Regions from separate parts of the Homo sapiens genome. Here regions 2, 3 and 4 are each linked to region 1. Evidence: fine-mapped QTL for protein levels in blood plasma. A gene starts in region 1. Each other region holds a variant in brackets. All regions are shown on one strand. Distances are between the middles of the regions.

Region 1 (7,824 bases):
CCCCAGCACCTTGGAGGCTGGGGGTGGAGGAGGTGGTGAGGTGGGGTGGGGTGGTGAGGAGCTCAGAAAATGTTTTCCTGAATTAGAGAACTGAAGGAATCAAGGCTCCGCTGAGCTCACTAAGCGCTGGAGCCTGCTGTAAGTGGTCAAGTCGGGTGATACCCAGCAGACAAGTAATTTGTGTGCAGACCGGAGTAGATTACGGAGGACCCAAGGGTCAGGCTAAGGATCCTGAACACCATCCACGATAGAGTGGAGACGTGCGCTTCGGAGCCTGAACTATGCAGCAAGCAGTGTGTTTACTCAAATACTATACAGTTGGAAAATCTTAATTCTCGATTTACATTGCCAAAAAAAAAAAAAAAAAATCTCCATAATACTCCCCCATTTGTAAATAAGCAAATCCGAACTAACCCTATTCCTTGGGACCAGAAGACCCAGTTTCTACCGCGGATAGATAGCATCCGCCTTATGCTAAAAGCTCTTTTTTCTGCGGTGGTGGGGGGCGGCGGGGAGTGTTTGGAAAGAACGGTTGCAAAAACAAAACAAAACCCCCAAAACCACTCACCCAATCTCAACCACCCCAACTGATGAATTTCGAAGAAAGTGCTTTTTAAAAAAGAAAAAACTAGAAGACCACAGACCTCCCACAGAAAGCTAAACCCATGAGAGTGGCATTCAAAAACTACCCATTTTCTGGAACATCTTTTGTAGCTAAATCCCAGCCATCCTAGCCCCGGAACACTCCCGCCCTCCGTCCCCGCACCCCCACCCCCGCCGCCACACGCGCTCGCAGGCTGACGGAGGTTGGCGGTGGGGCGGCCGCTCAGGTGAGGGGCCACCCAGTCCCTCGAGGCGCCGGCGGCTGGAGCCCATTCGCTGCCGTCGCAGCAGCAGGGCAAGAGGGGGTTGGCCAGGAGGGGAGGAGGCGGAGGACGCCCGCAGGGAGTGCGGGGGAGGGGGACGGGAGGACGCTAAGGAGAGCCGGGAGGGGCAAAAGCACGGCGCGGGGAGGGGGAGCGGAGAGGGCGGGAGCGGCGGGGGCGCGCGCCGGCGCGGGGCCAGCCTCGCTTCGCCAGGGTCGCTGGCGGACGCGCGCCGCAGTCCGAGCCTCAGACGCGCGGGCGCGGGGGACGGCGCAGGGGCCGCCTGGCTGGAGCAGCCAGAGGGGATAGCTTCGTCGAGAACGGAGGACACCGGCGGTCCAGGGTCCTGGGCAGTCGCGCCAGAGCTGAGCGGAGGGCGCGGCGCGAGAACGTAAGTAGCTCCTTGCGCGTCTGGCGGTGACACTGGGTCCTGCTCGGGGGTGACGGCTGGAGCGGAGGAGGACGCGCGAGGCTGCTGCGTTGTCACTTGGACACCGCCGCGGGGTTCAGCCGAGCGCTCACCGGGCTGGCAGCGCTGCAGGAGGGGCAAAGCAGATCTCCAACTCCCTTCTCCCCTGCAGGCCCCCGACACTCCCGCGGGCGCCGAGAGGGAGCAGGGGGACCTGCGCTTGGGTGAAGGCACAGCTGAAATCCAGCAGCGCCGGCACCCACCACCCCCTCCAGCCTGTGGCCAACTTCTGCTCCGCGCCCGCACCCCACGCTTTCCGGGAAGCCCTGCCCAGAGCTCTTGCTCGTGGGCAGTTGGGCATGGAGAGCCTGCGGGCCCGGCACGGCGGCTTCCCGGGCTTGGACACGGAGGCGCGGGGCGTCACGCCACAGTGCCGGCGGGGCGAGGAGCGCGGGGGCCGGGCCGGGAGCGCACGGGCGTGTGCCTGTTCGGGCCCCTGCGGACACGTCTGGGCGTGGGCTTTGTTCGGAAGTGCGTACACCTGTGCTGACCACGGAGTTCGGGGGCGAGGCCGACTTCGCTTCTCCAGTCGCTGCCTGGAGAGGGCTCGGGGAATCGAGGCGGAACGAGAGAGACACGGAGGACAGAGGGGTGGGGCGCTTGCGGGGGCTTTGTCGGCCTTACAGGTGCGGGTCCCGGGAGTCCCTGCGCCCCGCCCTGCCTCCGAGGGCTGGGACTTGTCGGGGCCGGCGCACCGGGCTGGGGGCTGCCTGGAAAGATTGCTTTCCCAGCCCAGGCTCTTAGCGGTGGGATCTGGCATCCGCTCCGCCCGGGATGCTGTGTTGAGCCAGGAGTGATTACCCGCCCTGGAGCATCCATCTCGCAGCGAGCGCCATCTGCGCCGAGCGCCGCCCCCGGCCCCCTCCACGCCGCGCGGGTGGGCGCTGCCGCATCCTGGTCCCAGGCGGTTGGCCAGCTCAGCTACTCCCGGCCCGCATCTGCTAGAGTGCGGAGGGGGACGGGGTGTCGCAGTAGGGTGAGCAAGGGAGTCGTCATTTCTCCCAAAGCGGTGTCCTCAGGGCCGCAAGCGCTGCTGGAGGGCTCCCCGGGCCCCGGGGCTGGCGAACAGGCCGCTTCCTTCCCCGGATCGCCTCCCCTCCCGCCCGCGCCCGCGGCCACATCTTCGTCCCCCGTACGCTGGCGGGTGGCCCCTGCGCCGCGGGCACCGAGGGAGGGCGCCGAGCGGTGGCGTTTCTTTCGCACCCCGCCTCTCTCCTTCCCTTTTCTTCGCATCAGGGGCTCCAGCCCTTGGCTACCACCGGCGCAGAACTGTCCTGAGAAGAAAGCTTTCTTTTCCTTTCCGAGTCCCAGATGGTTAACGCTCAGAAGTGCGGGTCTAAGAGACTGGGCTCTTCCTCGCCCCAGGCTTTTGCAGGAGGAGATGGAGCCAAGTGTAATGAGGCAGGAAGCATTGGTTGTGCACCAGGAGCTCCCCCTGGGGTGGTCCTGGAAAGGAACACAGTAACCTCTGAATACAAACCTCGGAGGCTGGGCTGCTTTATGGGACTGCATTGTGCTAACCATGCCCTGCTGTTAAAATATTGTAATAATGGCAGTACTTGCTGAAGTACTGAAATGGAGTTAGGCAACTGATACTTGCTGCTTTAATGGTAACGATAGCCAACCGGTTTTGAGAGCTTTAGATGTGCTGGGCGCTGCGCATGTTACATGTATCATCTCATTTAATTCTCACAGCAACCCCATTTTAAAAATTAGGAAATGAAGGCTTAGAGAAACCAAGTAACTTTCCCAAGGCCACACAGCTAGGAAGTAGGGGAGTGGGATTGTTTTTGTCCTTGTGCTTTACAATCCAAGACTGAGACTGTGGCCTTTTGGAGGCTTATCAGTTTAGGGGAAACCTAAACCACTGAGTGTTCAAAACCAGGGAGATACATTACAAGCCCATTTAATTCGGAGCTCTGCAGAACTCACAGTAGCAGGCAATATTGTGATTCAGAGAACTGTATTGTGGAATAGCCTTTTATTCCCATGTAACTCCTTTACATATTCTTTTATTCCTGTTAGCTTTTAAGTACGTGGCTGTTAACCCACAATCCAACCCATTACAGTCACTGAACAACATGTTCTTAGTAACCAGGGCCTCTGTGATTACATAGATGTTCCTGGCACATCATAAAGTTTCATAAAACTTTTTTTTCTTTAAAGAAAAGGTCCCCAGCCCTGAATGTCCTTTGTACACGGTTTTGACTGCAAATGAGTTACTCCTCAAATTGGATGTTGAGTTTGAATAGGACCCTAGCATCCAATCTTAGGAAATCATTCTATTTCCTAAATATATAGAAACATGTGGGGGCATTTATGAAGATGCTCCATGTTAACTAGTAAAAAAGGAAAATTTGAACCAAAGTGGAATCAGCTATTTCTGGAATAGCTTTTAGAATTATAATTAACTGATCAATTGGAAAAATTGATTTATTTTGCATTCATAATCCTACTGACTCATAGTCTTGTTTCAACCTTCTTTTTACTTTATTACAGGAAAGTTGCTAAACATTTTACATAATCCAGGAATTTTAGAGCTGTTAGAGGACTCAGGCAACATTGTATCTAACTAATCCTTCGAGTTTCAAAACAACTGCAATAGGGCTCAGCCTCGTAATGCAGGGTAGTGATGAGGTCTTTGGACTGAAGGCCATTGCCCTTACACCACATCATTTTTGTTAATGCTACGGTAACAGTGAATAGAAAGCAAAGCATCTTTGGAAATAGTACTTCCTGTGAGGCCAATACAACAATGATGGCAATAATCGCTAGGTGTAAGTGCTTCAGAAGTGTGAGGGGGTCCTGAGAATGTATACACCTGGGCTGTAGAAAATTTCAAGAATCATTTCAAATAATGCTTTCATGCAGGTGTAATTTTCCCTGTGTAACAGATTGAATATAAATAGACTCTACAGATATTATATTGTGTATGTACATAGGAGCTGTTGAATGGAACTCTACAGGAAGCTTTTCCGTTAAAAAGATTTCATTCATTCATTCCTTCATTCTTTAATAAATATTTACTGTGTTCCAGGCAGTGGGGATACAGTGGTGACCAAACAGAATATCTGTCCTTGGGAAGATTAATTCTAATTTTATCATCTAGCTACATACTTCATCACACAGAGTTTTTTTCACATATCACAAATGCATAGCCGATGAACTTGCACAAACTGAACACATTGACTTAACTAGCACTCAGATCAAGGAACAGTGTAATGCACATCTGAGAAAGCCCTCTTGTGGTCCCTTCCAGTCATTACTCACCCCAAAGGGTAACCACTGAGGCACTGAGGCTTTTTCCTTATATTCTCACCATAGATCAGCAGCTATTGGAATCTCATCCTCATTTTCAAAGAGTACCTACCATCTGAGAAGCTCGGTAACCCATAGCAAATTTAACTGGAATGTAGAGCTTCTAACATATTCTTTAGGAAGTTTTGTGCATTTGAATCAAAAGACTGCTTTACTTCAGTCTTCAGCTGTTGCAATGATTGATGAAGAGGAAGTGATTTGAAAATTACTAAATACATTTAGATATGCTTTTCCCTTAAAATTTTATGCTTCCCTACCTGAAGCATCCCTTCCAGGAACCTTCCTGGCAGGTGAGGACAGAGGAGAGAACTGGATGCTAAGGGCAAAAATCCAGTGACTTATTTTACTTAAACATTTTACTGCCTTGGCAAATGAAAAGCTCCTTCTGTTTAAAACAGCCTCTATTGGGATCAAAGGCTGAAGTTTCTTCCCCCCCCCACAGCATTAATGAGATATAATTGACAAGTAAAAGTTGTATACATTTAATATGTACAACATGATATTTTGATATATGTATACATTGTGAAATGATTACCACAATCAAACTAATAAACACATCTATCACCTCACACAGTTAATTTGTGTATGTGTGGTGAGAACATCTCATCTCCCCAATTCCCCTACCCACTAGCAATCACCATTCTACTCTCTGCTTCTATGAGTTTGACTGAAGTTTCTAAGAATAGGAAGATGTACCAAAATGAATTGACAAATTTTTATTTTTTCTCTTAAAATTGAAGGCTACCTGAGGAAGGAAATAGGGGAATGGCTCAGCCTTCAGCGTCAGCAACTGTAAATCCTTCATTATCAGGTTGTCTTTAAATGGGGCAGCAAATGCAATATGTTTATTTAAAAAATGTTTTTGCTAAGTTTTTTATTGTAAAATATATATGACATAAGATATGCCATTAAACTATTTCTAAGTGTATACTTCAGTGGCATTAAGTACATTCACATTGTGTGCAGCCATCACCACTATACCTCTCCAGAACATTTTTTGCCTTCCCAAATTGTAACTCTGTACACATTAAACAATAGTTCATAACCCCTCAGCCCCCAGCCCCTGGCAACAAACATCCTACTTCCAGTCTATGAATCTGATGACCCTAAGTACCTCATATGAGTGGAATCATACAGTATTTATTTGTCTTTCTGTAACTGGTTTATTTTGCTTACCATAGTGCCTTCAAGGTTGATCCATGTGTCAGAATTTCCTTCCTTTGTAATGCTGAATAATATTTCATTGTATGTATATGCCACATTTTGTTTATCCATTCATATGTCATATATACTTGGGTTACTTTCATCTTTTGGCTATTGCAAATGATGCTGCCATGAACATGGATGTACAAATATCTGAGTCACTGCTTTCAATTCTCTGGGGTATATACCCAGAAATGAGACTGCTAGATCATATGGTAGTTCTATTTTTTTTTGAGACATCGTTATACTCTTTTCCATAGTAGCTGTACCATTTTACATTTCTGCCAACAATGCGCAGGGGTTCCAGTTTGTCCACATTTTCTCCAACACTTGTTATTTTCTGTTTTCTTGATAATAGCCATCCTAATAGGTTTGAAGTGCAATCACTGTTACTTTTTTTTTCTTTCTTTGTTTTTTTTTTTTTGGAGACGGAGTCTCGCCCTGTCACTTGGGCTGGAGTGCAATGCTGCAGTCTCGGCTCACTGCAACCTCTGCCTCCCTGGTTCAAGTGATTGTCCTGCCTCAGCCACCTGATTACCTGGGATTACAGGCACCTGCCACCATGCCCAGCTAATTTTTGTATTTTTAGTAGAGACAGGGTTTTACCAGGTTGGCCAAGCTGGTCTTCAACCCCTGACCTCAGGTGATACATCCACCTTGGCCTCCCAAAGTGCTGAGATTACAAGCGTGAGTCACCACGCCCAGCCACTGTTATCTTTTAAAGCTGTAAATTAATATCTATATATTCTGAACAAGTCATTCACAGCATTTCTAATTTATTGGTTTAACATTTATTAATATGGAGGTATATGGTTTTCAACAAGTATTAATTGATTACATACTTTGTGCAAAGCAAGAAATTGATGTTGTGGAGCATATGTGTTGTAGTCCAAGTCCAGGATAAGCCAGCATTGATGGCATACATTCATGGTATTTTTCTAAAATGTTGAATTAAAGTACCTATGTCTGTAATACACTTGTGCTAAATGATTTTGCTATGAGGATAAGTTAAATAAATATGCTTTTTTTACTGCCAAAAAATGGCATTATTATTTTAATCTAGAACAAGAGCAAATTTGCCTCATATCTGAAAATAGAAATATTCTTATGCTGAATGTTTAGGGATGTACTGGCATTGTAAATTATAGTTCCACATTGGGCATTTCTCCCTACCATTGAATCTTCCAAGATGACAGCATAAACCTTCACCACCCAATTATAATTGCTTAGCTGAGCTAATAAAAAAGATGTGGTGTCAACTTAATTGACCTATTTTACTGGCCTACAAGATTGGAATTTCAAATTAGAAAAAGGTAATTTTTAACAGTCTGATGGAGGGTTTCCATCAAGTGACTAAGAAGCTAGTGAAGATAAAAAAAAAAAAAAGCCAGTGGTAAAGGGAACAAATTATAACCACTAATGCTCCTGTACTCACATACTGTCCTAATGGCATATTCAGTTCGAACACAGGAATGATGAATCTTACTTGTATTATGTGCTCTCCGAATTTCTTCCATATTGCCCTGGACTAAAACATGGTTTAATTCACATGAGAATGAAAATGACAGGTACTGTCAGGCAAAAATGATCCTTTTGAAATTCTTCTCATTAAATAATGGTAGGAAGGGCTGGAAACTATATTTTGAATATATATATGTTGAATATATATATATGTTTAAATTTTATTATGTGCATAGTGTGTTGGTTCAAAACCCACTGTAACCAGAAAAAAAAAAAATCTATTTCTAGGGCAATCTGAGGGAATCCTGTAGGAGGTCTTCCACTGGGTAATATGCAATGAATTTGATTTATCTTTCTCAAGTGGGCTGAGAGCATTCAAAAAATTCAGTATGAGTATTCAGCATGTAGTGATCTTTTCTCCAAATTTCAACTTTAAAGCTAATTTCATGCCACTTTTTGATGTCCTTGGCATTTGAATGGCATGATTTATGGCATGCATTTTTGATG
Region 2 (8,143 bases), 350 kb before region 1:
TACCTTTTCTTACATTTAATCTTACCTTTTTTTGGTGGAAAAACAGCATGTACAGCCTTGGTAAAGTATGAACAACACATCAGGAGTTCATATTGGAAAGTTTGTAATTGATAACAAAAATTTAGTAGCACTTTTTTAAAAGTTGATAAAATTGCTGCACAACTCTAGAATGCACAGAAGTTGTGCAATTTTTGTAGTCATTTATGAAGGAACATAAAAAATAAAGTACCCATTTTTCCCAAGAGAAATGGAAATGTAATTTCCTAAGCAAAATCTATTCATGTTGGAATTTTTATTAGCTTTCTGTAATGGAAAGTCTATTAAGTATATATTGTTTTGTGCTTCTGAATAGTTTTCACATCTTTTAAGTGAAGACGAGATCAGTATTGCATTATGAAAAGTACCATTCACGCATTGTAAGCAACAGTTCACAATGCAACGGGCTGGATAAGGCAAAATAAATTTCAAAATTTAAATAGATCAAATGTGTTCAGATGAATGATAGCATTATTACTTACTCCAAAGACGCCATGAAAAGGATCAACAAAAATCTGGGGCTTGAAGCTAGCTTTTAGTGAAATGTTCTTTAAAGCCATTTGTTTGAAAATTCGATGACACCTAGTGGCAGATTCAGCTCATCACTACTGGGCACTCAATGAGAGATCTGTGGCCTCCATTTTGAGACTTTCCAAAAATAGGTAAATAAACCAAGCATTTTTGGCCAATATGAAAGATGGAGAGATAGTTTACTGCAACTGCGCCACTTTCATGCAACAAATCAAGGTTGACAAAGTGACAATAAGACAGCAATATGGGAGACGGAGGGCTTTGTCCCCTGCCCTTCCTATTCCTGTGTGTTGTTGTTTCACATGAACCTGATCAGAAAAACTTCAGTCAATTCAATCATTTCAATGCGAACAATTAAGTAAACCAAACCTTGTTAATATCTATTCTGATAATATACGAAAAAGTCGTCTATTTGTACAATTGATGGATAAACATTTGGTCTTAATTCAGTGCCATCCCAAGTGAACCAAAAAGCTTTAGCTATAGTAGATTATGAACTTTCTCTTTCTTCTCTAAGGAGCTATAATCCAGTCAGACTCTAAAAATATTTAATGAGTCTTAACTTATAATCATGTTAAATATCCTTTCTTTATACATGTCACCTAAAACATCATAGATTTATATGGGTAATTTCTTGCCTCAATTGTATATGATGCACTACATGAAATATTTAGGCCAACTTTAATGTCCAAAGAGTCTTTCACAGGGTGTGACACAAACTGGAAGGTATCGGGTTACCTGTGGAAAAATGGTTTGAAATTTCACTGAAAACAGCATACCCCGGGACCTATACTTGGTTCTTAAATTTAGTCAACAAAGGTATATTTAATACTACTAAGCCCCAGGCACTGTATTAGACTCAAGACAACAAAACCAAATAAGTCAAACTTGTGATCTTGGACTTCTTAGTCTGTTGGATAGTGAGATCAAGAAGTACACCAATGCTAGGACAAAAGTAAGTACCAGGTTCTTTTTATGAGGGCATGGGAAATTTACCTACACCACGTTTGGTGGGAAGTGGGAAGAAATAATGATAATAAGCAAATCCTTCCATGACCAGATGGCACTGGAGATGACTTTTAAATATTGGATAAGACAGGGTCAGATGAAGAAATGCATGGTACTGAGGAGCGGGGGGAACTTAGGCAGAAGGAATGGAAGGTAGAAAAGGACAAGCGTGGCAGGTCACAGTACACTGCTTGGAAAGCAAATCATTCAACATAAATTTTACACTAAAGGTAATCATATGCCTTTTAAGGCTTTTAAGAAAAAAAGTGAAAGTATCAAATTGGAATAATAAAAGTATCACTTCCCAGATGTGCTGAAGTCACAGAAGACTGGGAGAAAAAATTCACTGGATTCTGTGGGGAAAATCAAGTTCACCTAGTTTAATTCCAAGTCAGCTAATTAGAATCAGGATCTACGTAGCTTGGAAAGAGAATCTCACAAACAAATTAGTAGTGTAGCAACATCTAGTCATTTTGCTAACCTAACCTAACAAATTTTAGGCTTAGTTCCTCCTACCTAACAAAATGAAATGTAAAAAGAAAGAAAGGAGAAAATAACAAAACTACAATGATGAGAGCTCTTCTGAGAGTTTTCTGGATGCTCTAACTGTATCAGACAGGTTGTCTCCCTAGAAGTAGGCTCTCCAAGAAGGACAAGCAGAGAAATAAAATGCAGATCAAGGGAAGACACATACAGCTTGGGGAGAATTGCTAACCCCTATATGCAGTCCAACCCCTCTATGGGTAGGCTTGTGGTTTTTATTGCTTTAGGAAACTGGCAGAACAAGCTATTGGAATCTTACTCTCTTCCAGATTCCATTTAGAGTCAAGCTCCCCTAACCTTCCCATAAAGCACAGCCTGAAGATAAAACTGTTCCTCAAAACCACCTCACAGAGCAAAATCAAAGCAATGAGGGCTGATACAACCATTGCAGGGCTGATACAGGGCTGATACAACCATTGCAAAGATTTCAGAAAGAGAACTTTGATTTTATTTCTTGTGTGTTTTGTCTGCATAGAAGGGAGGACAAAGGGAGGAGAGAGGGAGGCAGGGAGGAGAGAGGGAGGCAGGGGGGAGAGAGGGAAGCAGGGAGGGAGGGAGGGCCCACTATTTTATGCAGGCAAGGAAATAGATATCATGATGACCCAGGCTGCTGCAGTTTTTAAGACAAGAAATGACGTGGGTCTAAACAAAGGCAGTGAGGATAGAGTGGGAAAATATGACCTGAATTTAGAGATACTAAAGAGGTTGTATTAGTCCATTCTCACACTGGTATAAAGATACTACCCGACACTGGGTAATTTATAAAGGAAAGAGGTTTAGTTGACTCACAGTTCTGCATGGCTGGGAGGCCTCAGGAAACTTACAATCATGGTGGAAGGGGAAGCAAACACGTCCTTCTTTACAAGGCAGCCGCAGAGAGAAGCACAAGCACAGGAAATGCCAGACATTTATAAAACCATCATATCTTATGAGAACTCACTCACTATCATAAGAACAGCATGGGGAACCGCCCCCCCATGATCAAATCACCTCCCGTTGGGTGCCTCCCTTGACATGCGGTGATTACAGGGATTGCAATTCAAGATGAGAGTTGGGTGGGGACACAGAGCCAAGCCATATCAGAGGTCAATTGAATAAGGTTTGCTGACCAGTCGGATGTGGAATACAGAGAAATAAAAAAATCTGGGATAATCCCTACATTTCTGGCTTCGGAGGAGGCTAAGCAATAATGCCATCCACCGAGCTTGGAAATATAGGAATTTAAGGGAAGAAAGAAGGGGAAGGGGGAAAGAATTAAGTTTTGTTTTAGGCTGAATTGTCTCTGAGACATAAAAGTATGAAGTCTACTAGGCTGTTGAATGTATGGATCTAGAGCTGAAGAAACAGGTTTGGGCTAGTGATCTGGGGCATCAGCTTTTAGATGATAAGTAAATCTCAGCAGAGAGTTAGAAAGCAGACCCCAATGAGTAACGATCCTAAACTTTTAAATTCTACTTCTTCTATTCAAAAAAAAAGAGACTTTTATAATAATAACAAGCTACCCAAGTTATAGTCCTATTTTATTTTCTTTCCAAATTCCTTTTCTTTACTTAGTACTTTCCTTTTAATGGGGACTTGACTTTTCAGGATGGAGTTTCCCTAGCACTTTGCGACATGCCTATACTTCCTCTTTGGAATGCCCCTTAAAGGACCTGTTCTGTTTGCTTTGCCGTGAAGTGGGGTGGTGCAAAACAATCTCTGACAAGCAGAATCAGGGACAATCAGATATATGCCTCTACCCCAACATCCCTTTCCTTTATGAACAAAAGAAAACACCCAAATCTTTCTCAGTCTACTTGTATTATCAGAAGAAGAGCTTTGAGTGTAAGTTGTCCAGGTCCTTGGTGTTTTGAACAAAGAATTGCACAAAATGCACAAAGTAACAAAAGAACAAAATACAAGAACAAAGCCGCGAAAGCAGGAATTTATTAAAGAGAGAAAGCACTCCACAGGGTGGGAGTCAGCCGAGCAAGCAGCTCGAGGGCCCAGTTATAAAGTTCTCTGTGTTTTAAGTACTCCTTTTGAGGTTCCTACCAGTTATTCCTTATCTGGATGAAGGATTTGGCCTATGGCTAATTAAAGGCTGAGGTGAATTGGTGCCCTATGCAAATGAAGGGATGGTCCCTGCTTGGCCCACAGCTAATCCAGGACACTATCCCTTTCCATCTGAGAAGCGGTGAAACTGAAACGGTAGGGTTGTAGGGAGAGTAGCCTTTGACCCTTTGTTACTAGACATGGGGAGATGGGGTTTTTCCTTTTGGTTCAGCTTTTGGAAGTTTGCCTTAATTGGCCTTAAGGTCCCTGCTCCCAGACCCAGGTGTTTTCCTTTTGATCCAGTTTTGGGAAGTCAGCATAAATTGGCCGCAGATTCCCTGCCCCAGGGCCTTGATGTTTTTCCTTGATTCATCACAAATGGACCTTAAGTTCCCTGCCTCCAGACCCCATTCTCCTGACTCATTTGGATCATCATGAAACAGATATGGAATATAGAACAATCTCTCTATGGGGACCCTCAAGATTCCCAATCCTGACTGACTCTTCCATTTTCCGGGTTAACTAAAGACCCAATGGAACAGGCCTAGTCGAGCATTCTGAGTTCCCATCAGATATTTGCCATTTGAATAAGAAATTCAAATTATAATAGTAAATGTCAATATTGAACATTTCACCAATCTGATATCATTAAAACAAAATGAAGCAATTTTTTAAAACTCACAAAACTCCAAATACAATACATTTTTTCTTTTTCTCTCACTAGAAACCTGGCCAGTTTTAATCTTAATTATTTACTCTGCCCCATACAAAAATAGTCCTATCAAAAATAAGAGCATGTGTCAATATGGGGATAAAATTAGCATTTATTTAAAAATATTTAAGAAACTTTACCACAAAGTGATTTGTTGTATTTATTTTAATACAGAGAGATAGCATTTTAAAACTTGTCTTTGTATTTACTCTTCACTAGAATATTCCTAGGTATGAATATGGAAACCCATTTGCCAAACA[A/G]AAAGTCGCATCTAATACAATATCAGTTCAACAGCCAACTCTGCTTTGCTGATGGCTCTGTGATTATTTAGCACCTATTTTATGCTAGTGCTTTGCCAGACAGACAAGGTGATAGATGAAGAAGTTAGTTTCTACCTTCAAAAAGAACACATTCTGGAGGGGTACAAGATCCTCATAAATCAGGAACAGTGACCTTGTGTGATAAGTGTTTTGCTGCTGGCATAATGGTTATGATACAATAGACTCTTTAAAACTACTCTTCATTAAATGAGTTACTTCATGTCAAAAGCCTCAAAGAGTAACTAGCACACTGTAAACTCTCAATAAATATTAGCATCTTTGGTAGACACATATCAACAACCCCTTTTACAGATGGTTTAATTGAAAAAAAAAAAAAAAAAGAAAGTTTAAATAACTTACTAAATGTCCAGAGCTAGAAAGTAGAGAAGCTATGAATGGCACTGAAGTTGTTCTGACATCAGAACTCATGACCTTTCCACATTGCTCCATGATTTCTCGAAGTATAAGAAAGAGAAGAGAGAGGAGGAGAAAAGAGGAGAGGAAAGGAGGGGAGAAGAGGGGAGAGGAGGGGAGGGAAGGGGGAAGGAAGGGAGTGGAGGAGAGGAGGAGGAAAGGGGAGGGGGGACAACAGCGGGGGAAGTGGAGGAGAGGTGGAGGGAAGGAAAGGAGGGGAGGGGACAGGAGGAGGGGAGAGGGGAAGGGGGAGAAGAGGGGAGGAAAGGAGACCAGGGGAGGGGAGAAGGGGAGGGGAAAGGGGAAGGGCGAGAGAAGAGGAGAGAGTAGAGGAGAGGTGGAGGGAAGGGGAAGGAGTTGTGGAGAGGTAGAGGCAAGGGGAGGAGGGGAAGGGAAGGGTGGAGAAGGGAGGAGGGGGAGGAGGGGAGAATGGGATTTCATTCTGCCTCTGGAATTGGGAGTTAAGGAAGTTTACACAGAGGCAAGGACACATGAGCTGGGCTTGAAGAAGGAGAGACCAGGAGGCAAAGAACAGCAACACTAAATTCCAAATGAGGGGTGGGAGAAAGTATATGCAAAATAATCAAGGCTCAAATGCACCCAGCATATTTTGGGTGATAACATGTAGTCTAGTATGATTCAATACTTAGGAGTTCAAGACAAGATTTGAGAGTGTGGTGGAAAAGAAATGTATATGTTAAAAACAATGCAATGTTGAAAATGTTGCCTGGAAACAGATTATGAAGTGCCTTAAACACCATGGTAATTAACTTGATGCTCTTGATACAGATTCATTGTTTTAAGAAGGAAAGAGACATGATTAGAGAAAGTAATATGGTAGAAGTGCAGGGAAGAATTGAGATGCCTAGAGGAAAAACATTATTAGGAGCCTATTTAAACTAGTTGAGAAATGAGGCAACACATATGAAGGGAATGTCAGAAACAACAGAGGAAGAGAAAGGAAATTGCGATGTTAATTCTGATGTGCTATCAGCAAGACTCATTGATTGATTCCCGGGAGTGTGAAAAGGAGGAGTCAAAAATGGCAAGGTTTCCAGCAGGAGTGACTGCAAAGTAATTCTATTAAGAGGATGGAGAAAACTTACCTGAAGATAGAAATTAGCTGTGTGACCTTTGAGATGCCCTTAAGGCCAACCAGGTGAAGATGATAATCGGCAGCTCAGATATGAAGTCTAGGTTAGAGATAGAATTTGTGGAAATCATGATATTTGAGATCATGGCAGTGAATATGAGAATGAGAGTGTCACAGAGCCAACAACTCATCCTTTGGTAATATCAGCATTTACAGGCTTCCAAAAAGTAAAAGAAGCCTGGAAGGAGACTGATAAATAGTAGTCAAAAAGTTAACAGGAAAATTGAGAGATGGTAGTGACTCAAAAGCCATAGGATCCTGGAGGATGCGACTGATATTGTTGGTGGGAGGCTACCAGTCACCTGGGAGAAGCCCACTTCCGCACAGTAATGGATGTGAGAATCCCAGGAAGTTGAGGAGAGCCAAGGTGGTGAGAATAGACTTTTCTTTCCCATTTGGCTACAAAAAAATAGAAAGAATATTGAGCGGGAGGGGGACTCAAGATCAAGGGATGCTATAATAGCTGTTAAGTATGTGGACATTTGCGTGTATTGACAAGCTGTTAAAGGGCCAGGGAGGAGGAAAATCCTGATGCCATGAGAGACCTGGGAAATAAGAGTGACTCCTAGGAAGAGGCAGTATGGGGTTGTTAGGGGTAACAAAACTCATGAGCTCTCATTTTACATATTGGTTTTCCTTTAGTCTCTTGCCGGTCTCCCAATGCATTCTGAGGAACAAATTCAGCTCATGGATGCTAGGAACCCAGGATAAATACTTTTAAAAACAACAATTGACCCTTTTCAGCCAGTCGTTTTGTATAATCTCTTCAGACACACAACCTGCTATTTTTGCAACACTGAGCAACCCAGGTCCCCAAATCAAGGTGTTTGGTGGCAAATACCTGTAGTTTCAGAGAATGACACCTCACTCAGTATCCTCCCTCTTCTACCTCTTGCCAGACCTTTTACTTGCAGCTGCTTCACTGCATATATATCTTATAAAGTGCTTTAGGAATAAAGCACTCTCATTAATTCTCTGTTCACTCACTTCAGGATTTATTCCACCTACTACTAATAAACTGGTATGATTTATGATATGCAGTTTACTTTCACCCATTATAGGCATCTAAGACAAACTCTGAAGGCTTTTCAAACACTAATCAAAACCTTACTAAAGCTGAGCCCTGCTCTGTTCCTAATAATTTCACAAAATACCTTAGAGAGAAGCAAGTTTCAAAGACAGCAGAAAATTCCTTTCACACTGTACAAGGGCTTCTCCCTAAGAGACACTCACACTGCTCCACTCACGGAATAGGCTTCAGTTGTTTTGTCTTTTTTTTTCATACATATCTCAAATTCATATTCAACCTTCTACCCATCTTTTCACACACAAGTCATAATACCTACTTCAGAATATGTTTTCTAAATGCCTCCAGAGGACTGGTTTTTCACA
Region 3 (8,143 bases), 170 kb after region 1:
TAGGAACAACAAAGACAAAGTAGAATAGAATTTTCGGACAAGAGACATTTAAGAAATGTGATATAATTTGGAAATGAGAGGCTGGGCATAATGGCTTACACCTGTAATCCCAGCACTTTGGGAGGCTGGGATTTGAGACCACCCTGGCCAACATAGTGAAACCCCGTCTCTACTAAAAAATAGAAAATATTAGCCAGGTTTGGTGGTGTGTGCCTGTAATCCAGCTACTCAGGAGGCCGAGGCAAGATAATCACTTGAACCCAGGAGGCAGAGGTCGCAGTGAGCCAAGATCGCACCACTGCACTCCAGCCTGGGCAACAGAGTGAGACTCCATCTCAAAAAACAAAACAAAACAAGAATTTGGAAATGAGTGACATATACAGGATGAATGGAGTAAGAGAATTGTAAGGGGAGCTGGAAAAGGGACATTCAAGAGCTAAAATGTGAAGGAAGATTGTGGAACCAAAGGGAGTGGAACACTGAAAAGAAGGTAGCAAGGGGTCAACAGTGCCACACACTGCAGAAAAGCCAAGTGAGACCACGGTAGATAATATCATTCTCTGTACCAGGAGCCTCAGACTTAGACATTCAGGACCCTCCTGGAAGTGATCCAGCCTTTTCCAAACCTATCTCCTTTTACTCCTGACATCTGTCGAATTGAACCATTCTGTTTCCCACGTGTGCCCCTCATTCGCATCTCCTGCTCCTTTTCCTTTCCTGGAACAAGTGCTTCAAAGTCCACATCAGATGGCATCACCTTCAATTGTGACTAATCTGGCATTCATCTCTCCCTTTCCTTGGCAATCATAGCAATTTTTCTGTACATCTCTGTGACACAAATCACTTTCTACCAAATATTATGATCACTCATGTAATTGTACTTTCTGCTTAGTTGCAAAGCACACAAATCATATTTGCAGAATACTTTGAAATTCAACTGTTAGGTCATACTAAAGACAGTTATGTAATAGTCTTTCACTAACAATCTGAAGAATTCTAAAACCAACTTCCCACCACCAAAATTTAGCTCTTAGAAGCTTAATGATGTGTGATATGAAATCAGTATAGCTGACTTTCTCACAACATTCTTACATTGTTTGTTCATTTTCTTAGACAGTTTTAACTTTGATTACAGAAAGTCAGTATACTTAGAGAGTAGGGAACAGAGAAGCATTTTTAAACACTGGTTTTTAAAGTAGGCTGCATATTAGAATCATCTAGGGAGTTTTAGAAATCCTGGTGCCCAGGTCCCACCCCCAGAACTTCTGATTTAATTGATAGGGCCTGTGGCCTGGGCACTGGGAGTCTTCAAATCTCCCCAGGCGGCTCTAGTGTGCAGTAGAGTTTGAGAACTACTGTTTTTCAAGTTCACTTGCATTTGAAGGTCGTGTCTTTTACTAGTGATGACTAATTGTTTCTACGTTGAGATGTGTATGTAGTTATAAATTTGTTTTTAACTGTCATGTATTCTCTCTTTTTCTCCCTGTGCCCCCAATTCATGAGAGAACAATCCGCAAAGGATGACTGACAGAGCTCTTATCTCTGCCAGGAGAGAAATACCAATTTCTTTTATAAATGGGTTGCTTTGGCCAGTTGCCAGAAAACAACAAAACCTTGAATATATAAAAATGTCTAGCTTGATAGAAAATACATTTGATTTTACACTAAAATTTTGAGGTACATTAACATTGTTCCAAGTACCAAATAGAAAAATAAGCATGTTAACTTTATTCTTAGCAAGTTCCAGGTAAGCAAAAATTTCTTTTAAAAAAATAGGTAGATGAGTGCTACTGCCCCAGTGTTATATGTTTCTGGTAATCATGTCTCCAGAAAGAAAATGTGTATAGATTTCTTTCTTTAAAGAGAAATGAAAGAGAAAGAGAGATAAGCACTGAGGTATCCATCAGCTCATCCCAGACATTAGTAAAGTGCTCCAACTTGTGTTTTACAGGAGAAATCCTAACAGTGGTTTCCTGCTTACATTCTCTGTTGGAAATCTTAATTTTAGTCCTTTCATTAGAAATGGTATAATAATATCTTTTGTTCTTTATACTGTACTTTGTTATACTACTAAGTTTGTGTACTCTTTATAAAGAGATGGGTACATCCAGAAGTACTAAATAAGTGATCATACATGGCTGCTTGTTATTTAAGCTATTCCATATTTATGTAACTGTTATGTCAGACAGGACTCACAGGGGGCAATGACATAACAACTTTAATTTTTCCCACAGTTGCTCCTACACTTCTGCTCTGTGGGGCAGTTCTGCTCCTGGAAGAAATCTCAGACACTTACTTCACCCAATTGTGTTTAATCAAAAATCTTCCAAACATTTGAATTCCTGAAACACTCCCAGTTTGGTTATTATTACATCCAGTTTGCCCATCAAAACTTCCAACTGTGTTCGCAGCCAAGGCTTTGCCCCTTCCCCGGCTCAGGCCTGCTGGCATGGTCAGAGAAGCCCCAAGCTTGGCAGCCATCTCATGCTGATAGCTCTGAGTTCCCTGGAGACCCTCCATTCCCCACACCCCACCTCCCAACTGCCACTGGGGCTTTACCCTGCCTTTCTGGTGGGTCCAAGTGTATAACCCCTCCCTTAGCTCCTGGGCAGCCAGCTAGACCCCTCTGCCATCCTTTCAAATTTTTGCCAAGATCCAATTCACATATTTCCTATGCCATGAAACCTTTTTGATTCATAATCTCAAGATAGCTTCCTTTTCTCTGAACTCTCATAGCACGTCATGCCTTCCTGTACCATTTATCCCTTTATTCCTTGTATTTTAGTAATTTATGGCACAGTCTCCTGTTATCTCCCCTACTATACACGGAACTTTTTGATAATGCTCATCATTCGTTTTTTTATTGCCCACAGTGTTGGGATTAAAAAAGAATATATTAAAATAAAAGTAAAGGCATTTATAAAATGTGTAGTTAGGTTATTATCATATTTAAAGTTCATGTTATATATGTAAACAACTATATAATTGAAGACAAGAAATTACTCAGGTATTGAATTTTGCTCATTTCATCAGGTTAAGAGGAAAAGGTAGATTTATATTTTATAATTTTTTAGATATTTAAAAATGGAAACAAATACAGTCATTCAAAAGCAATTTAATTTAAGCTGTTATATGAAGTAATTATCATATTTATTGTGTTATACCAAAGAGCAGACAGCAGATTATTTCCTTTACAAAAGGAACCCATATCTAAAAACTGTTGGGACTTCAGAACAGGTTTTTCATCATTTAATTTTTAAATATTGAATACCTTCCTGACTTTTAAGAGCTTTTAGCATAAAAGACCATTGCCTCCCTGTCTACCTTCCCTGTCTTCATGCAGAAGATAATTCATTTTTTTTACTTGATATTAGTGAGCATACAGACCCAGACTAAAACCCAGCTTATTATATATTTAAGAAATCATATTAAGGTGGCATTTGTGTCTTCTTTATAACAGCTGCGCTGTGTTGCCAGATCCTTTATTTCATTATGTAAAATACAATGACATTGTTATTTCCCCCAGTCCAGTTAAAAATGGACAACGGTCAAACTATTTTCAGTAGCACCAAAGAAACTAAATATGAGAGTTCTAGGTTAATCTCATCATGATTTTTGAGACAGTTCAATGAAAAAATTCACTTCAGATATATTTAGGGTTTCATCTTTCATTGCTGTCCAGTGGGAGGTCTCCATTCCAACTCTTACCATTCTGTGAGTTCAGTCATTCTTTTTAAAGGTAGTTGTAGCACAATTGAATAGCATGGGCTGACTGCTGGATATGCTTAGGGTGGTAGTTCTTGGCCATCCAGTAATTCTTTATTTACTTATCAAAACTGCATTGGCAATCGTCCTTGGCAGAGAGGGAGTAAGAGAGGCTTTTACCTCACATATGAA[G/TAAACAGGAAG]CCTCTTCCTGTTTATTGCAGATTGCAGCTTGTTCTGGTGAAAGGAGCCAGAATTGCTAGCGCTTCTAAGTTCATTCGCCTGTTGGGAAGAATAATTTTATTTTGAGCTACCAAACAAAATAACTGTGAACCTACTGATGTTGAGATCAGGCCAGCTTTTAACCTACAGGATTCTGTTGGTGTCTTTTTATTCTGGGCTTTCATTGTATTCACTATTAAATGGTTTGGATACAAAAATTACCTGGAGAGACCTAAGATTTGTTTTTGATGGTGAATGTTGGACCAGGCTGCTGAAGCGGAGTGTGCAGCTGAACATGTGGGACACCAGTGTCCATTCTGCATTGATGCTCAGACTCCTCTTTAAAACACTCCGCCCACATTTATGTAGCTGTTAAATTACAAATAATACTCTCCTCCTTTAAGCAGCATAAAGATGGTGTTGCAGGCTGGGCATGGTGGCTCATGCCTGTTTTCTCAGCACTTTAGGAGGCTGAGATGGGAGGATCACTTGCTCAGGAGTTTGAGACTGGCCTGGGCAACACAGTGAGACTTCTGTCAAAAATTGGAAAAAAAAATCAGTTGGCTGTGGTGGCACATGGTTGTAGTGCCAGCTACTTGGGAGGCAGAGGCGAGAGGATTCTTTGAGCCCAGGGGTGGGGTGGGTGGGGAGGGCAGGGGGGATGGGGGAAGGCGGCAGGTCAAGGCTACAGTGAGCTATTATCGCACCACTGCACTCCAGCCTGGGTAACGGAGCAAGATCCTGTCTCAAAAAACAAACAAACAACAACCAAAAAAAAACAGTGTTGCATAAGTCACACTGTGGGTGAGGGCATAAATCTCCCCAATTCCCAAACTTCCAGATAGAAAATATATATTTTTCTGTATTTATGCATATATTTTGTACTTTGAGAATATCAGTGTTTAAAGGCACATGAAACAAACTACAACAATTATGAAACACAAAACAGGGTTCTGTTAGATTTGTGAGTATGTAAAAATGTCAAATATTTTCACCAACAGGAAATAAAAACAAAGGAAATAAAATTGATAAAACTATTATTAATCTCAAGGAAAAATCTGCCACTATCATATTCATGTAATCAGAGACTTTCCAGCGATTTTAGTCATGCTACACTTATGCCAGGAAACCCACTCAGATTAACACCAAATAACTCATCTCTTACCATATAGTCTTTATCTGGGTGTGTTTTCTCGTCACCTGGTATAATGGAAAGAGTGCCTTCTAAGCAGACAACCTTCTTTCAGTGGCTTGGCCTCTTACTTTCTATATGGGCCTTGACAAGACACTGCTACTCTTCAAGCCTCAGTTTTTTCATCTGTAAAATGGGAGTCCAAGTTCATTATTCCTTAAGAGGAGTTTTAGAATTCAGGATTATTGGAGTCGCTTCCAAGATGGCCGAATAGGAACAGATCTGGTCTACAGCTCCCAGCAAGATCGACACAGAAGACGATGATTTCTGCATTCTGCATTTCCAACTGAGGTACCTGGTTCATCTCACTGGGACTGGTTGGACAGTGGGTGCAGCCCATGGAGGGCGAGCCAAAGCAGGGTGGGGTGTCGCCTCACTGGGGAAGCGCAAGGGGTCAGGGGGATTTCCCTTTCCTAGCCAAGGGAAGCTGTGAGTGACTGTATCTGGAGGAACGGTATGCTCCTGCCCAAATACTGTGCTTTTCCTATGGTCTTCACAACCAGCAGACCAGATTACCTCCTGTGCCTGGTGTGGCAGGTCCCACGCCCACGGAGCATTGCTCACTGCTAGTGCAGCAGCCTGAGATTGACCTGGGACCCTGGAGCTTGGTGCGGGGAGGGGCGTCCGCCGTTGCTGAGGCTTGAGTAGCTGGTTCTGTGCTCACCGTGTAAACAAAGTGGCAGGGAAGCTCAAACTGGGCAGAACCCACTTCAGCTCAGCAAGGCTTACTGCCTCTCTAGATACCACCTCTAGGGCAGGGCATATCTGAACAAAAGGCAGCAGACGACTTCTGCAGACTTAAACGTCCCTGCCTGACAGCTCTGAAGAGACCAGTGGTTCTCCCAGCACTGCATTTGAGATCCGATAATGGACAGACTGCCTTCTCCAGTGGGTCCCTGACCCCTGTGTAGCCTGTCTGGGAGACACCTCCCAGTAGGGACTGACAAACACCTCATACAGGTGGGTGCCCCTCTGAGATGAAGCTTCCAGAGGAAGGATCAGGCAGCAATACTTGCTGTTCAGCAGCCTTCGCTGGTGATACTCAGGCAAACAGGGTCTGGAGTGGACCTCCAGCAAACTCCAGCAGACCTGCAGCGGAGGGGCCTGTTAGAGGGAAAACTAACAAACAGGAAGCAATAGCATCAACATCAATGAAAAGGACATCTACATCAAAACCCCATCTCTAGGTCACCAACATCAAAGACCAAAGGTAGATAAAACCACAAAGATGAGGAGAAACCAGAGCAGAAAGGCTGAAGATTCCAAAAACCAGAAGGCCTCTTCTCCTCCAAAGGAACATAACTCCTTACCAGCAAGGGAACAAAACTGGATAGAGAATGAGTTTGACGAGTTGACAGAAGTAGGCTTCAGAAGGTTGGTAGTAACACACTTCTCCGAGCTAAAGAAGCATGTTCTAACCCATCACAAAGAAGGTAAAAACCTTGAAAAAAGCTTAGATGAATGGCTAACTAGAATAACCAGTGTAGAGAAGACCTCAAATGACCTGATGGAGCTGAAAACCACAGTACAAGAACTTTGAGAAGCATACACAAGCTTCAATAGCCTATTCGATCAAGCAGAAGAAAGGATATCAGTGATTGAAGACCAAATTAATGAAATAAAGCGAGAAGACAAGATTAGAGAAAAAAGAGTGAAAAGAAATGAACAAAGCCTCCAAGAAATATGGGACAATGTGAAAATACCAAATCTACATTTGATTGGTATACCTGAAAGTGACAGGGAGAATGGAACCAAGTTAGAAAACACTTTTCAGGGTATTATCCAGGAGAACTTCCCCAACCTAGCAAGGTAGGCCAACATTCAAATTCAGGAAATACAGAGAACACCACAAAGATACACCTCGAGAAGAGCAACCCCAAGACACATAGTTGTCAGATTCACCAAGGTTGAAATGAAGGAAAAAATGTTAAGGGCAGCCAGAGAGAAAGGTCGGGTTACCCACGAAGGGAAGTCCATCAGACTAACAGCGGATCTCTCTGCAGAAACCCTACAAGCCAGAAGAGAGTGGGGGCCAATATTCAACATTCTTAAAGAAAAGAATTTTCAACCCAGAATTTCATATCCAGCCAAACTAAGCTTCAAAAGTGAAGGAGACATAAAATCCTTTACAGACAAGCAAATGCTGAGAGATTTTGTCACCACCAGGCCTGCCTTACAAGAGCTCCTGAAGGAAGCACTAAACATGGAAATGAACAACCAGTACCGCCACTGCAAAAGCATGACAAATTGTAAAGACCATCAACGCTATGAAGAAACTGCATCAATTAATGGGCAAAATAATCAGGTAGCACCATAATGACAGGATCAAATTCACACCTAACAATATTATCCTTAAATGTAAATGGGCTAAATGCCCAAATTAAAAGACACAGACTGGCAAATTAGATAAAGAGTCAAGACCCATCATTGTGCTGTATTCAGGAGACCCACCTCATGTGCACAGACACACATAGGCTCAAAATAAAGGGATGGAGGAAGATCTACCAAGCAAACGGAAGCAAAAAAAAAAAGCAGGAGTTACAATCTTAGTCTCTGATAAAACAGACTTTAAAACAACAAAGATCAAAAGAGACAAAGAAGGCCATTACATAATGGTAAAGGGATCAATGCAACAAGAAGAGTTAACTATCCTAAATATATATGCACCCAATACAGGAGCACCCAGATTCATAAAGCAAGTTCTTAAAGACCTACAAAGAGACTTAGACTCCCACACAGTAATAATGGGAGACTTTAACACCCCACTGTGAATATTAGACAGATCAACAAGACAGAAAATTAACAAGGATATCCAGGACTTGAACTCAACTCTGGAACAACCAGACCTAATAGACATCTACAGAACTCTCCACCCCAAATCAACAGAATATACATTCTTCTCAGCACCACATCGCACTTATTCTAAAATTGACCACGTAATTGGAAGTAAAACACTCCTCAGCAAATGTAAAAGAAAAGAAATCACACAAACTGCCTCTCAGACCACAGTGCAATCAAATTAGAACTCGGGATTA
Region 4 (8,143 bases), 1.0 Mb before region 1:
GTCTCAGCTCACTGCAACTTCTGCCTCTCAGGTTCAAGCGATTCTGCTGCCTTAGCCTCCCAGGTAGCTGGGATTGCAGGCGCCGGCCACCAGGCCTGGCTAACTTTTGTATTTTTAGTAGGGATGGGGTTTCACCATGTTGGCCAGGCTGGTCTTGAAATCCTGACCTCAGGTGATCCGCCCGCCTCGGCGTCCCAAAGTGCTAGGATTACCAGCATGAGCCACCGCACCCAGCCCTTTAATATATTTAACCAAAGTAAAATAAAATATATGTCAGACTAAAGACCTTCTACAAAAGTGACTTTTGAAGCCTTATTTGGAATAGCAAAATATTGGCAACAACTCATTTTGTCAATGGAAGAATGAAGAGACAAATTTTGATAATTTCACATGATGATGTGGCACTTAACAATAAAAAGGAATGAACTATGTATGTTCTATGGAAGAATTTCAAAACCTTTGTAGTGAGCAAACAAAGCCAAACACGAGAGAGTACATATCGTAAGATTCTGTTATTACGAATTTCATAAACAGGCAAAACAGAACTCCAAATAGGATTTGCCTTTAGGAAGAAAGGTTATTATGTAGAATGAGACTTGAGTGAATTTCTGGGGTGATGGACATGTTTTATATTTAAATTGGTGTTTTGATTACACAATTATATGTACATTTCCATGTAAATTGCCTATTTCAGTTCGAATTGCTCATTTTGCGATATATAACTATATACCAGTATGAAAGAGAAAAAGAGAGAGACATAAAAATGTTTATAATTACCACACTAGCATAAATTTTCTACTGGTTAGGCATTAGTTTTAGATGTCTTATTATCTTAATTTTTGTAAGAAACCAATATGGTGTAAAGCATTATTAACCCCATTTTATAGATGAGGAAAGTAAGAGACAGGAGAGTTAACTAATAGTTAAGAGTCACACAAAGCTGAGATTCAAATCCTAGGAATTTGTTTTGGAATTCCAAGTTTATGCACACATATCATCATCATCGTCATCATCATCACCATCATCATTATCAACTTTTATGAGAACCTTGACTACCACTAGTGTTGTGAATATCGCTGACTTTAAATGTGTGCAGAAGCTTTATAAAACAATATCATGATCTGAACCCATAATCTCTTCCTAGGTATTTCCATCTTCACTCAAGACCTAAGTATCATTTGTTCACAATTCAAGTGATATTTCTTACCCACATCCAAGTAATTGTCCTGTTTCATTTTTGTCCCAATAGTATCTCATTTGCAATGTACTATGTTCCCCTCCCAACTCCTCACTGCAAACCTGGGCCTCTTCTAGTATTTTCTATTTTTGTGAAACTTCATATATGCATCCTATTATGTAAGCCAGGAAGAGAAGACTCCATTTAGCATATGATAAATATTGTTGAGCTCATACTTAATATTACATACTTTTCTTTTCCCTGATAAAAACAACAACAACAACAACAACAAAACAGTAAACAAGATAGGCAAGACCTCCATTTGAACAGAGCTTATGTGAGTGGAGATAATAGACAATAAGCACGCAAAGAAAACAAAACAAAACATAAATAATATGTATGTTTTATACACACACACACACACACATCGCTACTCTCTCTCTCTATATATATATATATTATATTAGTGATAGGGACTCTGCAGAAAATTACAGCTAGTTAATACAAAAGAAAAATTCAGAATGGGGCAGGGAGTCAAAGAATGTCTCTATGAATGACAAGAGTGAGCAAACATGAATATCCACATAAAAATTTTGTGAAGGATAGAACATTTGTGCAAAATTTCTGAGGTGAGATCAAGCTTGGCATCTTTGAGAAATGGAGAGAGGAGCAGTGCTGCTAGGGCAGGTCGGAGAAATAGAGTGGATGGTGCCAGGGAGGCAGGCAAAGCCTGTTGGAATACAGGACTTCATGAGTCAGGGAGAGGAGTCTGGTTTTTACTCTAGGAAAAATGGAAAACCACTGGAAATCGATGGCTCACCACTGTTCTTAGGAGAAAGGCAACATTTGTTAAACAGGGCTGATATTTTACACCTGTTAAGATGCGTTGTGTTGTTGGATCCTCTAGCTTTGTTTTGCATCATAGTCTCGCTTGACGTGCTCTGGTGCAGCTGACTACATTTTAGTTCCTAGAATCACTATGATTCCTCAAGCCACAATGCATTGAGCCATGCTGCTTCTTTTACCTAGGATAACAGAATTTTCAAACAAATGAATGGGTCAGATTTGGATATTGTAAAATAGCGACTCGCACTGATTTCTGAAATAACAAAAGAGTTGGGGAACAAAAAAGAAAAAGAAGCCTTCCTCCCAACCTCACTTCCACATCGAAGACTTAGATCCTGTGCCATCAAAGATTCTAGGTCAGTCTTCCTCCTGAAGGAAGCCTCTGTGTATTGCTGGAGAACTGCTTCCTCCTCTCAGCGTCACTACTTATTATATACCAGATCAGACAATTCTATAAGGCCACACAGTCTGAGACAGAAGGGGATCTGTCATGGTGCCTTTTATTCTGAGTTAAGTCATCTAAAGTAAAATAAAGGAAAAACGAAATGAGCACAGACAGCTGTATGCTCTAGAAAGAATAGTGTTTGCATGCAAAGAAACAAAACAAAACAAAACCTACAGATTGCTTCAAATTAAGACCAGAAAAAGGCTATGAAAAAATGTAAAATCCTCATGTCAGGGCAGCAGAACTACATGATATAAGTGCTTAATACAAAGTGGGGAAAGTAAGCCCTAAGCAAAACTTATCTAAATAATATAACTTAAGATCTCAGAAATAAACATCTGTGGAAATAAATAAAGCATAGAGGGACAATCAGCAACCTCTTAATCAAAGTAGATCTCTACTGCTTTAGAATTGTATACATTGGAGGGTGGGGAAAATGAAAAATAAAAATATAGAGGCTTAAAAAATATATATAGACAGAGAGGCTTGTAAGATATTCTGTAACATGAGCATGGAACTGTTTCCCTAAAATAAGCAGAAGGAAAGTAGAACTATAAAAACTATTTACTACAGGATACATCAGTATAGGTAAGACTATATTCAGTTTGAGTTTTCAGAAATATTAACAAATAATAGTCTGCCTAAAATAAGGTATTAAAGATTAAATAAAATGAGAACTGGTTTATATATACAACAAATGCTAAGAAACTAAAGACGTAAGCAGAAAACATATTTGCATAAGAGTTAAGAAAGAACAGATTCTGTCATACGCAAAGTCAAATCCACAATTTGGAAAATAGACTAAAAATATCCTTAAACACAATACCTGTGAAAAACATGATGAATATCAAAAGCAGAGAATATAGAGAGAGTGTAGTTCTAAATCACGGATGAACTACATTTTAAGACATAAACTGGCATAAAGAAAACAGAAACATGTTGTGATATTCAAAAATATTTCCATGATGTTTTACTTTTTTTATTTTTTCATTTTTTATTTTTGTATTTTATTGTTTACGAAGAATGTCCATGCCCATTTTTTTGCAAATTCTTTTTTTTTATTTTTATTATACTTCAAGTTCCAGGGTACATGTGCACAACGTGCAGGTTTGATACATATGTATACATGTGCCACGTTGGTGTGCTGCACCCATTAACTCGCCATTTAACATTAGGTATATCTCCTAATGCTGTCCCTCCCCCTTCCCCCACCCCACAACAGGCCCCGGTGTGTGATGTTCCCCTTCCTGTGTCCAAGTGTTTTCATTGTTCAATTCCCACCTATGAGTGAGAACATGTGGTGTTTGGTTTTTTCCCTTGCGATAGTTTGCTGAGAATGATGGTTTCCAGCTTCATCCATGTCCCTACAAAGGACATGCAGCCAACAGACACATGAAAAAATGCTCATCATCACTGGCCATCAGAGAAATGCAAATCAAAACCGCAATGAGAAACCATTTCACACCAGTTAGAATGGCGATCATTAAAAAGTCAAGAAACAACAGATGCTGGACAGGATGTGGAGAAATAGGAACACTTTTACACTGTTGGTGGGACTGTAAACTAGTTCAACCATTGTGGAAGTCAGTGTGGCAATTCCTCAAGGATCTAGAACTAGAAATACTATTTGACCCAGCCATCCTATTACTGGGTATATACGCAAAGGATTATAAATCATGCTGTTATAAAGACACATGCACATGTATTTTTATTGTGGCACTATTCACAATAGCAAGACTTGGAACCAACCCAAATGTCTATCAATGA[T/C]AGACTGGATTAAGAAAATGTGGCACATATACACCATGGAATACTATGCAGCCATAAAAAAGGATGTTTTACTTTTTTTAAAGTAAACTGCTGACTGCAAGAATTCACTGTACTCCAGGTTCAAATAATACTAAAAGAACACTCATTTGACATATTTTGAAGAAGGCTTGAATTTTGATTATAAAGAAAATAAAATAATAAACACACATATATAAATAATGAGACCACTTTTAGGGAAAATTCATGTAACCCTGGTTTATTTTAAACTCATTCAATCCTGGTTTATTTTTACCTTGTCATTAATGTAGAAGGGCAATGTGAAAAGATTTTTGGACATACAAAATTAGAACACAGAATAAAAAATGATCTATGTAACCTGCCCCGAAAATGCACTAATTGAAAATATAAACTCCGAAATAGAGAAGAATGGATTTATAGAATGGCATAAGCCCTGATTGTATCTCTCATCTTTGTGATGGCTATTTTATATTAAGTTTAGATTGCTTATTAATTCAACAAATACTTTTGCACACCAGTGTGCCAGGGGATATACTAGCGTATCATAATGCTAGTATGAGGGACAAAAATATTTGACAATATGGGAATGAAATCACAAAAAGAAAACATCATTAATGATTCTTAAACGTTGATGCCCCCCCAAATTAATAATAATGACTTGAGTGTATATACTGAGTTCATATTTCTTTGAGAGAAATTGGAGAGCAAGAGAATATTATACTAGATTCTTCATTTTACATTGAGGGAGTTGTAAGTAATGATATTCATCCTGAACATGACAACTTTGAAAATAAATTTAATCACATGTAATATTTTAAACTCTACTATATAAACACTAAATCATTTTAAAAATGTGACCAATATATACCTATATAATTAATATGACAATTAATGAAAATAATTTTAAATAGTATAAATACTAATACATAAAAATAACATACCAAATATCAGCACATGGAAAATAATTAAACTTCCCATTAAGAAAGAACATCTATCTGATTTGGATAAAAGCAATATATGTTTTAAGAATATACTGCTTATATGAGAAACATCTGAAGCTGAAAAGTCAAAAATAAAAATAAAGTGACATATAAATGCAGTTTTGAATGTAGAGTATTTAATTGTTTTTTTCTGTGATGTGTACAAGAACAGATATAAGTAAATAATATGCCAAAATATCTGTACCAGTTTGCAGTGCAGCTGATTTTTATTTTATGATTTTTAATTTTCTATATTTTTACTTTTTCCATAAAGGTATATATTCTAAGATTAGAAAAAGAGAGGTGAAGATTTTATTTTAAAAACAAAGATCTCCAGATCATTTACTATTTTGTTTTTGTAAAATATTTCTCTTCTTGCTTATCTAATTAACTAGTCAGGTCAGCACTTTGTTATTTTAGCAAAGATGAATAAGTCTGGGAATTAATGACTATGAACAAGGGAATATTCTTAGATATTATGACCTTGACTTTAATTTGTCTCTAGAAACATGGGATATTAAATGAGTTGGAACTTGTTTATTTTTCATCATTTGAAGGAATATTCCTTCTTACCTGATCTACTTGTCCCACAAGCTCTTGAGATTTATAATTCTAATTTCTTATCAGTTGACAGCTTTGAAATGTTTATTTCATTTGAAAAGGGTGCATACATAGCAAATGTTAAAATATGACAGAGAAAATATCATCATAATTGCAGCTTTAATTTAAATAGTAAAATTGTTATTTTAATCCTATTTTATAAGACTATTTTAACCAGTTATCGGCTTCCCCCTCATCCTCTGATTCCTGTGTCCACACAGCACTATGCTTCAACTGGGGCAAAGGATTCTTTTGCTTCAAAGCATTTTTGATCATTTATAATCTCACTTACCCAGAGCTAATTGCTTAAAAATCCCTTACACATTTTCCTTTTGCTAAGTTCCACTTGGGGCTTACGATTGCTTAGAGACTTATTTTTGCTTCTCTTCTCCTCTCTGCATGAATTCTTGCTGGCCCCTCTCCACTCTATTTCTGATATATTTTAATTCCTTGTCTCTTTTTAATGTTGAGAGATTAAATTCAGCCTTAGCTTTGCTCCACAGACATGCATATCCCAATTCATGCCAAAGCTCAGAAAAGCAAAGAGGCTTCTAATGAACAGTAGTATCTGAATGAGAAGCCACCCTGTTAAGCATACATTTTGGAGTCTCATTCCCCTCTCCAAACACTAATATTTCTTCCTAATATGCAGTACGCCCTCCCCAAAGGGAGTTCAGATGAATTAGGATTTTTCTATATCTTTACAACACTTAAATATATCCCAGTCGTGCTAAAAATGTGGTCTCCAGATAGCATCAGCATCACCTGTAACCTCATTAGAAATGCAGGTTCTTGGGCCCTAATCCACACCCACTGAATCAGAAATTCTAGGAGTTTCTCTGGTGATTCTAATTGCATGTAAAAATTAAGAACTACTGAACATAGTCTGCAGCAACATAGAAAAAAGTAATATGCATAATCTCAAAATGAATTTCTATGTAATTAGATCATATTTAGAATGGCAGAATAAGGATGGGAAGGGGGATGAGGCAGTAGGGCATACCTGCGTGTTCAGAATCCAGCTCTGGTCATACTCCTGAACTTGCTTCATCCCTAGTTTTCATATTCAACAGCTCCTTGAGCCAGTTTGTACTACCCCCACCTTATTCTGCCAATCACATAATTTACCTTAATTCATTGCTGGATGTCTGCACACCTGGCCTGAATTTAAATCTGCAGCATCCAAACTTTCCCTGTGCTTTCCATGCACAGAGTTCAGCCTATGCCAATGTGAGACTCACCTCAAGGTGACTGCTCAAGGTCTCCTTTCATCCTGTCCCTGATTTCCTGTTTCTAGAGCCCCACACCACCTGATATGCTGCTCATTTCAATGTTCTAGTATAATTTTCCTAATCCTAATAAAGAATTTCATCCTTGTAATAATGTAGTGCATGTTCACCACAAACACAAAATGGCCTCCTTTTGCCAGTTCAGTAACAGAGAATTGGTCTAAATTTTAAATATAATTTGATTTAATGAATGTACTTTTTTCCCCTTCCTAGTTAATTACCACAACCAATGATAGATTTGGGCCAGATTGCAAAGAATATTGAAGGAATTATATTTTGTCCTATATGCAATGGTAATAGTTGAAAAGTTTGATAAGAGAATAGAAGCTGTCAATGGAGATGACAGGGTAAGAATTACCTATGGTAGACAATGAAGAGGACTTTGAATTAAGCTAAGTAAGAGATTACAATAATGGTTAATAGTTTGGTCTAGAGTTGGGGTGGTAAAGATTCAGGTAAGTGGATACATTTGAAATTTATTAAGGAGAAAAAGACATAGGACTCTGATTTAGATAGAATAAGGGGCAGATGAGGAATGAGGTAGAAGTGCCGAAGATAGTTCTCAGATGTCTGCCTCGTATTAGTGGATGATGATGGAACCATTCAATGAAACAAGAAACCCTGGAAAAGAACCAAATTTTAGGGGTTGGGTAGGGAATATTGCTATCACTTCTTCTTTCTTCTGCAACAACCACCTAACAGATCTTTTTGCATACTTTTATTAGGGAGAGATACAGTCATACTATTTTTACTGATTATTTACTAGATATAAAGTTTTGATAAATTACATAGTAAGCATATAGTCTCTCTTGTCATCCTCAAGAGAAGTTTCTAAAGTAGTTGTTTCTAAGCCAAGGCTCACAGAAAGAAAACTGAAACACAGATTTAAATTGTTCAAAATCACATAGCAAGTGGTACAATTCAAACTTTAGAGTTCATGCTCTAAATTTTTGTACATCTGCCTCCTTAAAATACACCCCCATTCCAAAAAAACTGAGAATCAATGTCCATTCATTGTTGC

Which allele goes with the higher level. Alleles are on the strand shown, and positions count from the first base shown. The strength of an association depends on the size of the effect and on how common the allele is.
For the plasma level of the protein whose gene starts at base 1,064 in region 1, allele G in region 2 goes with a higher level than allele A (moderate association).
For the plasma level of the protein whose gene starts at base 1,064 in region 1, allele TAAACAGGAAG in region 3 goes with a higher level than allele G (strong association).
For the plasma level of the protein whose gene starts at base 1,064 in region 1, T is the low allele of the variant in region 4 and C is the other (moderate association).

The links. PIP is the chance, under the fine-mapping model, that this variant and not a neighbour inherited with it causes the effect. The UK Biobank Pharma Proteomics Project read protein levels with antibody pairs (Olink). The fine-mapping took linkage between variants from a reference panel, not from the people measured, so its PIPs are less certain.
Region 2: its variant is fine-mapped to the plasma level of the NRCAM protein (UK Biobank, PIP above 0.99).
Region 3: its variant is fine-mapped to the plasma level of the NRCAM protein (UK Biobank, PIP above 0.99).
Region 4: its variant is fine-mapped to the plasma level of the NRCAM protein (UK Biobank, PIP above 0.99).

The regions. Positions count from the first base shown.
Region 1 is chr7:108,449,676-108,457,499 of GRCh38, reverse strand. It overlaps NRCAM (neuronal cell adhesion molecule), which reads left to right and starts at 1,064. Exons shown (of 33, transcript NM_001037132.4): 1 at 1,064-1,257.
Region 2 is chr7:108,798,468-108,806,610 of GRCh38, reverse strand. The region is part of intron 2 of LOC107986836 (a long non-coding RNA gene); the gene reads right to left. Among named protein-coding and RNA genes, the nearest start is that of LINC02903, 82 kb to the left of the region's middle. The variant A/G (reference allele first, on the strand shown) is at 5,125.
Region 3 is chr7:108,276,058-108,284,200 of GRCh38, reverse strand. The region is part of intron 3 of NRCAM (neuronal cell adhesion molecule); the gene reads left to right. Among named protein-coding and RNA genes, the nearest start is that of LAMB4, 150 kb to the right of the region's middle. The variant G/TAAACAGGAAG (reference allele first, on the strand shown) is at 3,898.
Region 4 is chr7:109,486,956-109,495,098 of GRCh38, reverse strand. No RefSeq gene overlaps it. Among named protein-coding and RNA genes, the nearest start is that of LINC02903, 610 kb to the right of the region's middle. The variant T/C (reference allele first, on the strand shown) is at 4,236.